2 separate regions of the Homo sapiens genome follow, and region 1 is linked to region 2. Evidence: fine-mapped expression QTL. Tissue or cell type: tibial nerve. Region 2 holds a variant in brackets; the other region holds the start of a gene. All regions are shown on one strand. Distances are from middle to middle.

Region 1 (5,139 bases), 830 kb after region 2:
CAACCTCTGCCTCCCAGGTTCAAGCAATTCTCCTGCCTCAGCCTCCCAAGTAGCTGGGATTACAGGCACCCACCGCCATGCCCAGCTAATTTTTGTATTTTTTAGTAGAGAGGGAGTTTCACCATGTTGGCCAGGCTGGTCTGGAACTCCTGACTTCAAGTGATCCACCTTCCTCAGCCTTTCAAAGTGTTGGGATTACAGGTTAGGATTACAGGTGTGAGCCACCGTGCTCAGCCTGATTGAAGTGTTTAGATGACATAGTGTCATTATTGCTGTGGCTGGGTTTAAATATATGTCATCTTGCTATTTGTTTTCTATTTGTCTCATTGTTTTTTCCTTTCTCCTCTTCTGCAGTCTCTGTAACATGTGCTTTTATAAATAAATAATTCTGTATCATCACTTTTGTTGATTTATTAACTACAGTGCTTTGACTTTTGCTTTTTTCTTTGTCTTTTTTTAGTGACACTTTAGCGTCTTAGCATACACCTTTGACTTACTAGTCTACCTCCAAGAAATAGTAGGCCACTTCACATAGAGTAGAATAAATCTACAACAGTGAACTTCCATTGTCCCTCTCCTGGTCTATTTGTATTACTATTTTTTTTTAAATTTATTTGACACAGCGTCTTGCTCTATCACCCAGGCTTCAGTGCAGTAGCGTGATCACAGCTCACTGCAACCTCCACCTCCTGGGTTCAAGTGATTCTCCCACCTCAGCCTCCTGGGTGCAACCTCAGGTGTGCACCACCACACCCAGCTAATTTTTTGGTATTTTTTTTTTTTTAGAGATGAGGTCTCTCTACGTTGCCCAGCCAAGCCTGGTCTTGAACTCCTGGGCTCAAGCGATCCACTCGCCTCAGCCTCCCAAAGTGCTGGGATTACAGGCGTGAGCCGCGGTGCCCAGCCTGCACTACTATTATCATACAATTTACTTCTACATTTGCTATAAATTCCTTAATACATTGTTATTATTTTTGCTTTAGGTAATCAACTATCTTTTAACTTGATTCAAAAATAAGAAAAAAATTACCTTCTATTTCCTATTTCTGGTGTCATTTATTCCTTTGTGTAGATCCGTATTTCTGCCTGAAGAACTTCCTTTAACATAAAGGTCCCCAACCCCTGGGTCACAGACCGGTTAGGAACCACGCCACACAGCAGGAGGCGAGCGCTGGCGGGCGGGCAAGGGAAGTTTCATCCGTATTAATTCATCGTGGTCTGAGGCTGAAGACCGCGACATACTCTGGTTCTGACCTATGCGTTCCTTCCACGCCCCTTATCCCACCAGAGTGTGAGCTCCATGGGGTGGGAATATTCTGGAACGTCTGCTGGTTTTATTCTTTGCCTTCTCCCCAACTAGGACCTGGCACAGGAGGGTGCGCATTACCTCTCGGCAAACAGAACAACTAACTGGCCTAGTTTGCTGGGGACCGAAGGATTTCCTGGAACCGGAGCCCGCTTGCCCAGCAGGCATGGTGTATTCTGTACCTCAGGCCCGCAAAAATGTTTTAAAGAAAAAAATGAGCTTTAGGGTAGAAGAAAAGGTTTTATTTTTCTTTCTCACATTGGAAAAAATGAAAACTTTCGGACCCATGAAATTTTATTACATTTTGCCAAAAACAGAACCAATAACATAAGTATTCAAAGTTATGTAAAGATAATTATTTAATATGAACATTATGATGGTGAGAGGGACCACGGAGCAAGGGGCTGCCTTGCAGGCCTGCCTTCCAGCTTTGCTACAGGGACCAGAAGCGGGAGCTGAGCGCAGGGGAGGCAGGCGGAGGCCATGGGCAGCGAGGCGGGTGCGCCAAAGGGCGCCAGTTCCGGAGCTGCTGGGCCTGGGCTGCAGGAGGGCGGAGCTGGGGCCGCAAGGCTGGTGCCGGCCGACAAACGACGCGGCGCGGGCGAGTGGGCGGAGGCGGCTGCGGGGAAGGCTGGGCTGCCGCGGGACGCGGTGAAGATAGCCTGCGGAGTGTCCGGGCTGAACACGTGAGTCTGAGGGTCGCCAGGGAATCACTGCGTGGCTGCCTCTGTGTCGGAGATCCAGATGCCTGGACTGGCCTCGGGGTCCCAGCGCTTGCCCGGCGAGCCGGCGGTCCGGGGACGGGTCCGGGCCGAGGCCTGCGGTGAACTCGGCTCGGCGGGTGCCCAGGAGGCGGGTCCGGGGCGGGGCCTGCGGTGAACTCGGCTCGGCGGGTGCCCAGGAGGCGGGTCCGGGGCGGGGCCTGCGGTGAACTCGGCTCGGCGGGTGCCCAGGAGGCGGGTCCGGGGCGGGGCCTGCGGTGAACTCGGCTCGGCGGGTGCCCAGGAGGCGGGGCAGGGGCGGGGCCTGCAGTGAGCGCGGCTTGGTGAGTAGCCCAGGAGGCGGGTCCGGGGCGGGGCCTGCGGTGAGCTCGGCTCGGGGGGTTGCTCAGGAGGTGGGGCCGGGGCAGGCCTGGGGCGGGGCCTGCGGTGAGCTCGCGCTGGGCGGGCTGTTCCGGGGGCGGGACTGGGCTGGGCCTGCGGTGAGCATCAGGCGATGCGGCACGGGTGCTGCGGGACACACAGACACGCCTACGATTAGACTCAGGCAGGCACCTACCGGCGAGCGGCCGCGGGTGACTCCCAGGCGCGGCGGTACCTCACGGTGGTGAAGGTCACAGGTGAGGTCACCCTGATAGTCCCGCTCGCGCCGAGAGCCCTCCCCTCGACCTGGGACCGCAGTGTTTGGGGCGGGGCTCTCCGTGAGGGGGTTGGGAAGCTCGAAGCCGCAGGCCTGACTCTGGCCTTTGGCATCCTGGGGTTGGCCTGGGCAAATGTGTCGTGAGAGACGGATTTGTTGTTCTCGGGAAGGCGTAAGTTTAATTTAGTCCTCCAGGACGGAGACCGAGGGCCGAGTATCCCGGCAGGGGTAGGAGAGCCGTAATCCAACCCCCACCTCCCCACTGTAAACCTCTTTCCAGAGAGGGCATTCCCGTTCCAAACACCAGACCCAGCCGGGGAAATGCTTCTTCTTGTCTGGCCCAAGTGCCCTCCTGGGAGGGGCTCAAAATGCATTCCCCCCAAGCTGGGCACAGCTCATCCCTGCTGGGGAGCTTCTGCAGTGGCCGAGGACTCAGACAACCCTAACCAGGGCTCTGGAGGTCTTCTGGAAGAAGGAACCCCAAGTAGGGACACCCCAGGAGCAGAGAGGAGGGGAACAGCGAGAAGAGACCCAGCTTTTGGGCCCAGTCCTGCCATGGCCAGCCATCCGGCCCCCAGGGCCCTGCTTGGGATGGGGCTGCAGACCACCTCCCATGGGACCTCTGCACCAACCATCCCCTGGGTAAAATCCTTGTTTAGGCCTGGTATTTAAGGCCCCTCTGCCCATCCCTACTCCTTCTCTAGCACTGCCCCTCATCCTCCCCCCATCTCTCCTCCATCCAGCGCTACAGGCTGTTTTGAGCTTTTGCAGGTGCTGGTCTCTGATTGAAATGTCCTGATCTCTTCTCCCTTCTTGTCCCATCCCAAGTGTCTCCTCCTCCAGGAAACCTTCCCTGACACCCACTGAGTTAGGTGGCCCCTCTGCCCACCATCATCCCTGCCCAGGCCCCCATGGGTCCTTCAGGCCCAGTACTGACCACCTGTCTTTGCCACCTGCTGTGCAGGGTTGCAGCACTCCCAGTAGACCAGGAGCTCCGGGAGGCAGGGCCGGCCCCACGTCCTCTGCGCACCACCCTGAGTTGGATCCTCTGTGCGCCACCCCTGAGTTGGATCCAGGGCTAGCTGCTGTTGACCTCCCCACTCCCACGCTGCCCTCCTGCCTGCAGCCATGACGCCCCTGCTCACCCTGATCCTGGTGGTCCTCATGGGCTTACCTCTGGGTAAGATGGACAAAGGACAGAGGGATGGGCAGACCCACTTTGAGGGCAGATGGGCTGACAGTAGGGAAGGAGGCTAGAATTCCCAGCGACAACCCCTCCTTCTAGCCCCCTGCCCCGGGGAAGGTGACGGGCTGGGGGCCTGATGGGCTGGAGGAGGGGCCTCTCATGTTCTGTGACCCCCGTTCCCTTCCCGCCCATCTGCCAACCCCAGCCCAGGCCTTGGACTGCCACGTGTGTGCCTACAACGGAGACAACTGCTTCAACCCCATGCGCTGCCCGGCTATGGTTGCCTACTGCATGACCACGCGCACCTGTGAGTCTGGGGGCCCTGCGTGGCCCTGCCTGGGGAGCACGAAGGGGAGGTTCTGCCCTGCCCCTGAGCATGCGGGGGTCCTGAGGAAGGAGGCTCTCCTGTTCCCGGATCCTGTCTGGGAGCTCCAGGCTGAGGGGCCCTGCCCTGATGGCTGTGGATGCTGGGGTGGGGCCAGCTGGGTCTCCTGCCCCTCTTAGCGGAGCTGGCTCACCGCCCCGCCCCTCTGCAGACTACACCCCCACCAGGATGAAGGTCAGTAAGTCCTGCGTGCCCCGCTGCTTCGAGACTGTGTATGATGGCTACTCCAAGCACGCGTCCACCACCTCCTGCTGCCAGTACGACCTCTGCAACGGCACCGGCCTTGCCACCCCGGCCACCCTGGCCCTGGCCCCCATCCTCCTGGCCACCCTCTGGGGTCTCCTCTAAAGCCCCCGAGGCAGACCCACTCAAGAACAAAGCTCTCGAGACACACTGCTACACCCTCGCACCCAGCTCACCCTGCCTCACCCTCCACACTCCCTGCGACCTCCTCAGCCATGCCCAGGGTCAGGACTGTGGGCAAGAAGACACCCGACCTCCCCCAACCACCACACGACCTCACTTCGAGGCCTTGACCTTTCGATGCTGTGTGGGATCCCAAAAGTGTCCGGCTTTGATGGGCTGATCAGCCCCTCGCCTGTCCAGGGCTATTTATGGGGAGGGGCCCAGTCAGGCAGGGAGCACTGAGCAGATGGGAGCTGTGGCCAAGCCCACCTTCTGGGAAGCCCTAGGAGAGGCCCCTGCCTCAGTCTGCCCCTGGTGTGCTGGGGCAGGGGGAAGACAAGGAATGCCCGCAGGTGGGGTGGTGGGGAGACTCTTAGGAGGAAAGGCTCCTCCAGGCCTAGTCACGCTTCCTACTGAGGCCAGGAGCTGCCAGGACCGGTACGGGATCAGGGCTGTGGGAGGAGGGCCTTTGGCACCGGCCCCTGTGCTAGGAAGTCT
Region 2 (5,137 bases):
CTCAGAGCCTGTACTGCCCTGGAGGTGGGACACCAAAGCTCTGAGGGGTGACTTCCCTGTCCCTGGGCCTCCTCCCCCCACTTCCTCCCATGCGGCCCCGACCCTCCCTGTCCATGGCCCTCACCTGCCTGCCTCTGCAGCGGTGAAGGAGACCTGTGCTTGGTTCACTGACAACTACGAGCAGGCCCGGAAGTGAAGCTGGAAGACAGGATCAGGTGCCAGCGGACCATCGGCTGGCAGAGCCCAGCGGCCACCACCCGTCAACCCTGCCAGGAGCTGAGGGCACCACCCAGCAACCTGGGCCTGCATTCCATCCGCTCTGCAGCCCCAAGCATCTTTCCAGTGGGGCCCCCATTCACGTTGGTCCTCAGGGAAACCAGGGTCCCGGGCAGGCCCGGCGCTTTGCTCCCCACACCAGCCCCCTGCGCGTGTCCACTCTGATCCTGCATCCCACTCCCTGGGAGCCAATAAAGTGCATTTTCACAGGCCTGGCCTTGGCAGCTCTGTGCTGAGCCGTCCCCCACACCCAGGGACTGCCCCCTAGCCTGGCCAGTCCCAGGACCCACTATCCCCCTGGCTTACTGTTCAGCCCCCAAGAGCTGGTGACTCCCTGGGGTGGAAAGGCCGCAGAGGCTGGAGATGGGAAGGCACACGTGGGCAGGCAGCAGGCAGGCAGCAGTGAGACTGGTGTGGACTGTCAGCTGGACAAGGATGTGCAGGGCAGGGCCAGTCCCAGCCCCTCCACATGTGGCCACCTGCAGGCCTGAGTAACTTGAGCTCACCCGGACCTCCCTGCCTCAGCCTGAGGGCTCTGGGGAAGCTGGTCTAGTGGGCCAGAAACGTCTAGTGAGCCAGCCGAGCTGAGCCCATGGATGGATATGAGGGGAGGCTGATGATTGGGTGGCTCGGGCTTCCCCTGGCCTGGCCCCTCCTCTCTGTGGCTCTCAGGCTTGGGCGTGGGTCCCCCACCTGGCCTTATCCCATGGAGAGGGACAGGTGCCTGCTGGACAGGTCAGCTCCAGCCACCAGAGGTGGGGTGTCATTGCTCGCCGCCCCCGTCCATTCTCAGAGGGGAGACAGCAAAGTCCAGAATGGTTCCCGGGCCAGTGCCTCAGCCAGGCAGGGTGGCGCTGGGGTATGGACCAGGAGCACTGGGCTCCAGGCCCCGGCTTGCCCGTCGCCCCCTTTCTCAGTGCCTCTCACAGAGGGAGCCCCTATGCCAGAACCCTCTGGTCCACTGCATCCAGGACCCAGATGCCCTCCCTGGCTCCTGGCCCAACTCTGGGCCCACGTCCTCAGGGTCCCTCTCCTGGGCGCCCTGTGCCGTCTTCACGCACATGATGCCTTTTGGCTGCAGGTAGGACCTGCTGCTTCACTTCTTCGTTCATTCCGGCAGCGGTGATGTGTCCTCCCTGTCCCGGCACTGAGTCCAGACCGGTGTGTCCTGCACCCAGCCAACCGCTCACCTCATCTCTCACTGTCCCTTTGTGTCCAGCAAGCCGAGGTGTCCTCCAGGCCTCCCCTGAGACTGGCCCCCTCTTGGGTCAAGGCCTCCCTACCTTTTAGGCCTCAGCTGAGGTGGCCCAGCCTCCAAAACACCTTCCCTGATGGCACCTTCACAGCGCCTCTCGGAGCATCCACCCTGCCCTGCTGGGATTGTTTGTCTGGAAACCTCTGGGAGCCCCGCCTCAACCCCTAACCCTCCCGCTGACACCCCAGGACCTCGAGCTCCAGGAGACGGGTTGGCCTCGTTCACAGTGTATCCCCTGGCCCCAGCCCTTTGTGGATAAAGGCTCTGCCCATGTGGGGGTTCAGGAAAGGCCTCCTGGAGAGGGTGGCGCCTATGTGGCTGCTTGGATCCACCAGGTGAACAGTGGGAAGAAGCCCAGCCAAGAGCAGAGAGGTGCCCTGGACACAAGCCTTGGCTGGCTGGGTGTCCACGTCAGCTGAGGGCTCCCAGCTGATGCTCAGAAGCCCAGCCCGGCATGGGACGGAGAAGCTGAACGGGGCTGGGCCCCTGGGCCTCCTTTTACCCACTGTGGCCCTGGGCACTCAGCCAGCAATCCTCCTTCACCTCGCCTCAGTCCACTTGTTTATGATGAGCTTTGTCCTTATGTATGATGGCATGGCACTGGATGCCTCTGGCCCCTCTCACCTCCCCACAGCCTTGGTCCTGAGCCATCACTGGCCCAGGGGGCCTGGGAGAAAATCCAGGGAGTCTGTGGGAAGGGGCTGGGAGGATCCGAGGTGGCAGGAGATACAGCTGCTGACGCTGTGTGCTGGTGCAAAGTGTCCACCACCCACGTTTCTCGGCTGCAGTGGCCGAAGCAGCCTCCTGGTGGCTTTCTGTCCCTTTCCACCTCATTTGCTTCAGAGCCTTGACACACTGGCTGTCCTGCGTGTGTGCTGACTGTAGTCTGTCTACACTGCCACCAAGCAGGGCTGCAGGGTGGGGTCCAGCCTGTCCCATCTGCTGCCGTGGGGTGATCTTGCCCAGGCCCAGAGCAGGGCCCAGAGGCTGCAGCTGCACAGTGAATGTTGAATCAATGAGAGGATTTCATTACTGAAGAGCTTAGAAAATGTCAAAGGCTTGGGCCGGCACGGTGGCTCACGCCTGTAATCCCAGCACTTTGGGAGGCCGAGGCAGGTGGATCACGAGGTCAGGAGATTGAGACCATCCTGGCTAACAAGGTGAAACCCC[A/G]TCTCTACTAAAAATACAAAAAAATAAGCCGGGCGTGGTGGCGGTCGCCTATAGTCCCAGCTACTTGGGAGGCTGAGGCAGGAGAATGGCGTGAACCCGGGAGACGGAGCTTGCAGCGAGCCCAGATGGCGCCACTGCACTCCAGCCTGGGCGACAGAGCGAGACTCCGTCTCAAAAAAAAGAAAAAAGAAAATGTCAAAGGCTTCAAAAGAAAATAACATATGTAACATGCAGCTTTAGATTGGATGATGAAAAAACCGCACTCAGATCTTCAAGCCTTGTTTTCCTTGTGTCATTAAAAGTGACGAGTACCCCCTCCCCGACTGTCCCCTCCGTCGGTCTCAGGCCCCTGGCCCTGGCCTGCTCTCCGTGACCTGGGTCTCCGCCCCTAGTGCTTCCCCGCAGCTCCACCGTCTGTGGTCGGCGGGGCCTCAGTGACCGCACGCTCTGGACCAGCCCCGCAACCCGCTTCGCTACCCCTCCCCTCCGGAAAACCAACATGTGCTCCTCGCACGCGCGACCGGGACCCCTCCCCGCTCCTCCGGCCTCTCCGAGCGCGAGTACCCCGCCGGCCCCGCCCCTTACGGCCCCGCCCCCAGTTTCTCTCAGCCAATGGGCAGTGAGGGGCGGCATAGCCCTTTCGGGCCAATAAGCAGCGAGAGGCGGGGTTCCCGCGCCTTGCGAACTTGTAGAGTGCGGACAAAAAGCCGGCCGGAGTGTGCCGTCCCAGTAACCAATCGGCGAGGGTGGGGACGGGGAGGCGAGTCCTATTGGAGGGCGGGGGTGGGGCCTAGATCTGTGGGCGGGGCGCGGCCTGTGGATGGGCGGTGAGCGCAGCGGCGTCCGAGGCAACAAGATGGCAGCTGCGGAGCCGTCTCCGCGGCGCGTGGGCTTCGTGGGCGCGGGCCGCATGGCGGGGGCCATCGCGCAGGGCCTCATCAGAGCAGGTGGGGCGGCGCGGGGCTAGGCCTGCGGTCTGGAGTGGGAGCAGCCCCGTGGGAGGTGTCCTGCCGCGAGAGTGGGGCCGGGGGCGCGGGCCCAGCCAACCGGGTCTCCGCTCCGCTGGGCGCAGCCGGGGCCACGCCTGTTTGCTCTTACTTTTTTGACGTGGCTGCGGGAAGATTTGAGTCACACGTGGCTAGGTGCCGCTTCCGTGGCCGGCTTCCTGGCCGCGTGGCCTTGGCCAGGCTCACCTCTTCCAGCCTCTGATTTTCTCTTTGCGCGCCAGCCCCTCTCATGGGGAGCAGCAGGGCTTCTCCCCCAGACACCTTGGCTCTAGGGACACCTGGGCCAGACTATCCATCCTGTGCCAGCAGCACCCCCACGTTGTGACAGCCAAAAATGCCTCCAGACACTGCCGAATGTCCCCTGGGTGGGGGGAGGAGACAGGCAAAATCATCCCCTGTTGAGAAACACTGCTTTATACCCGGAATATTTATGCTGACCATATACTCCTCCAGGCATTTAGAAGCCTCTCTGCAGATTGTGGATAGGGAGAGCTGGGTGACTTTTGACTCTCTGCCTTCAGCCATACTTCAGGGTCCAGAAGAGTCAAGATCAATCGGGAAATAGCTTACTATGAGTCTCAGGAGTCTTCCCTGTGAAACCTGGCAGTACCGCATGCCTCCCAGAGCTGTACAGGTTAAATGAGACATAAATGTCTAGTGTTGAGCTTAGTACTGGTGTGTTTGGCTGCCACTGTCATGATTAATTGCTGTGTTCAGGTTGTGGTGTACACTTGTGCCTTCCTGTTCGACCTTACCAAAATCTAACCCAATCTTTCCACCCCGTACCCGACAAAAGCAGATAATTTCTACCAAGTAGGCATTTAGCCTTTTCTTAGACATTCCAGCATAGACTCTCCCTCTCGAAGAACCTGGGCCCCGATTGGGCCTTCTGTGGCCAATCAACTGCCTTTGTACCCACCACATTCCCCCAAGGCCTGGTGTTCCTCCAGAGGTACTGCCTCTTCTGCTCCAGGCAGCCTTCCCTTCCCTGGAGGCAGAGGCCCCAGGGATCTGTGTCCTCACCAATGAGGTAAGCTCCTGGCCTCCATACCCAGCAGCAGTCAGGGGCGTTGACCGCCAAGTAGAATCAGTGGATCTGATTGCCTGGGCCCAGTGAATGGTGCATCCCGCTTTGGGTTCCTGGGGCCAGGAGGGGGCCCAGGATGGGCCAGGCGTGGCTGAGCCTGAGAGGCCAAGTGAGCTCCCTCTCCTCTCCGTGCCATCCTATCCCACCCCTTCACCAACCCCTCTTCCTTTTCCTTTCTTTCCAGGAAAAGTGGAAGCTCAGCACATACTGGCCAGTGCACCAACAGACAGGAACCTATGTCACTTTCAAGTGAGCATAGAGCCCAGGTTCTTCATACCCTCAGGAGCCCAGGATAGCTCTTGGCTCCTGTCCCACTAAGACACTTATCAGAGCCAGGGATGG

The links. PIP is the estimated chance that this variant, and not a neighbour inherited with it, causes the effect.
Region 1: it holds the start of LYNX1, and the variant in region 2 is fine-mapped to the expression of LYNX1 in tibial nerve (GTEx, PIP above 0.99).

What each region holds. Positions count from the first base shown.
Region 1 is chr8:142,774,612-142,779,750 of GRCh38, reverse strand. It overlaps LYNX1 (Ly6/neurotoxin 1), which reads left to right and starts at 2,549. Exons shown (of 4, transcript NM_177477.4): 1 at 2,549-2,645; 2 at 3,630-3,845; 3 at 4,057-4,158; 4 at 4,388-5,139. The coding sequence starts at 3,794. The coding sequence ends at 4,584. It overlaps LYNX1-SLURP2 (LYNX1-SLURP2 readthrough), which reads left to right and starts at 1,879. Exons shown (of 5, transcript NM_023946.5): 1 at 1,879-1,992; 2 at 3,630-3,845; 3 at 4,057-4,158. The coding sequence starts at 3,794.
Region 2 is chr8:143,607,969-143,613,105 of GRCh38, reverse strand. PYCR3 (pyrroline-5-carboxylate reductase 3) reads left to right here and starts at 3,531. Exons shown (of 6, transcript NM_023078.6): 1 at 3,531-3,648; 2 at 4,980-5,044. The coding sequence starts at 3,558. GFUS (GDP-L-fucose synthase) reads left to right here. Exons shown (of 11, transcript NM_003313.4): 11 at 141-488. The coding sequence ends at 196. RefSeq lists an enhancer at 1,924-2,423. The variant A/G (reference allele first, on the strand shown) is at 2,702.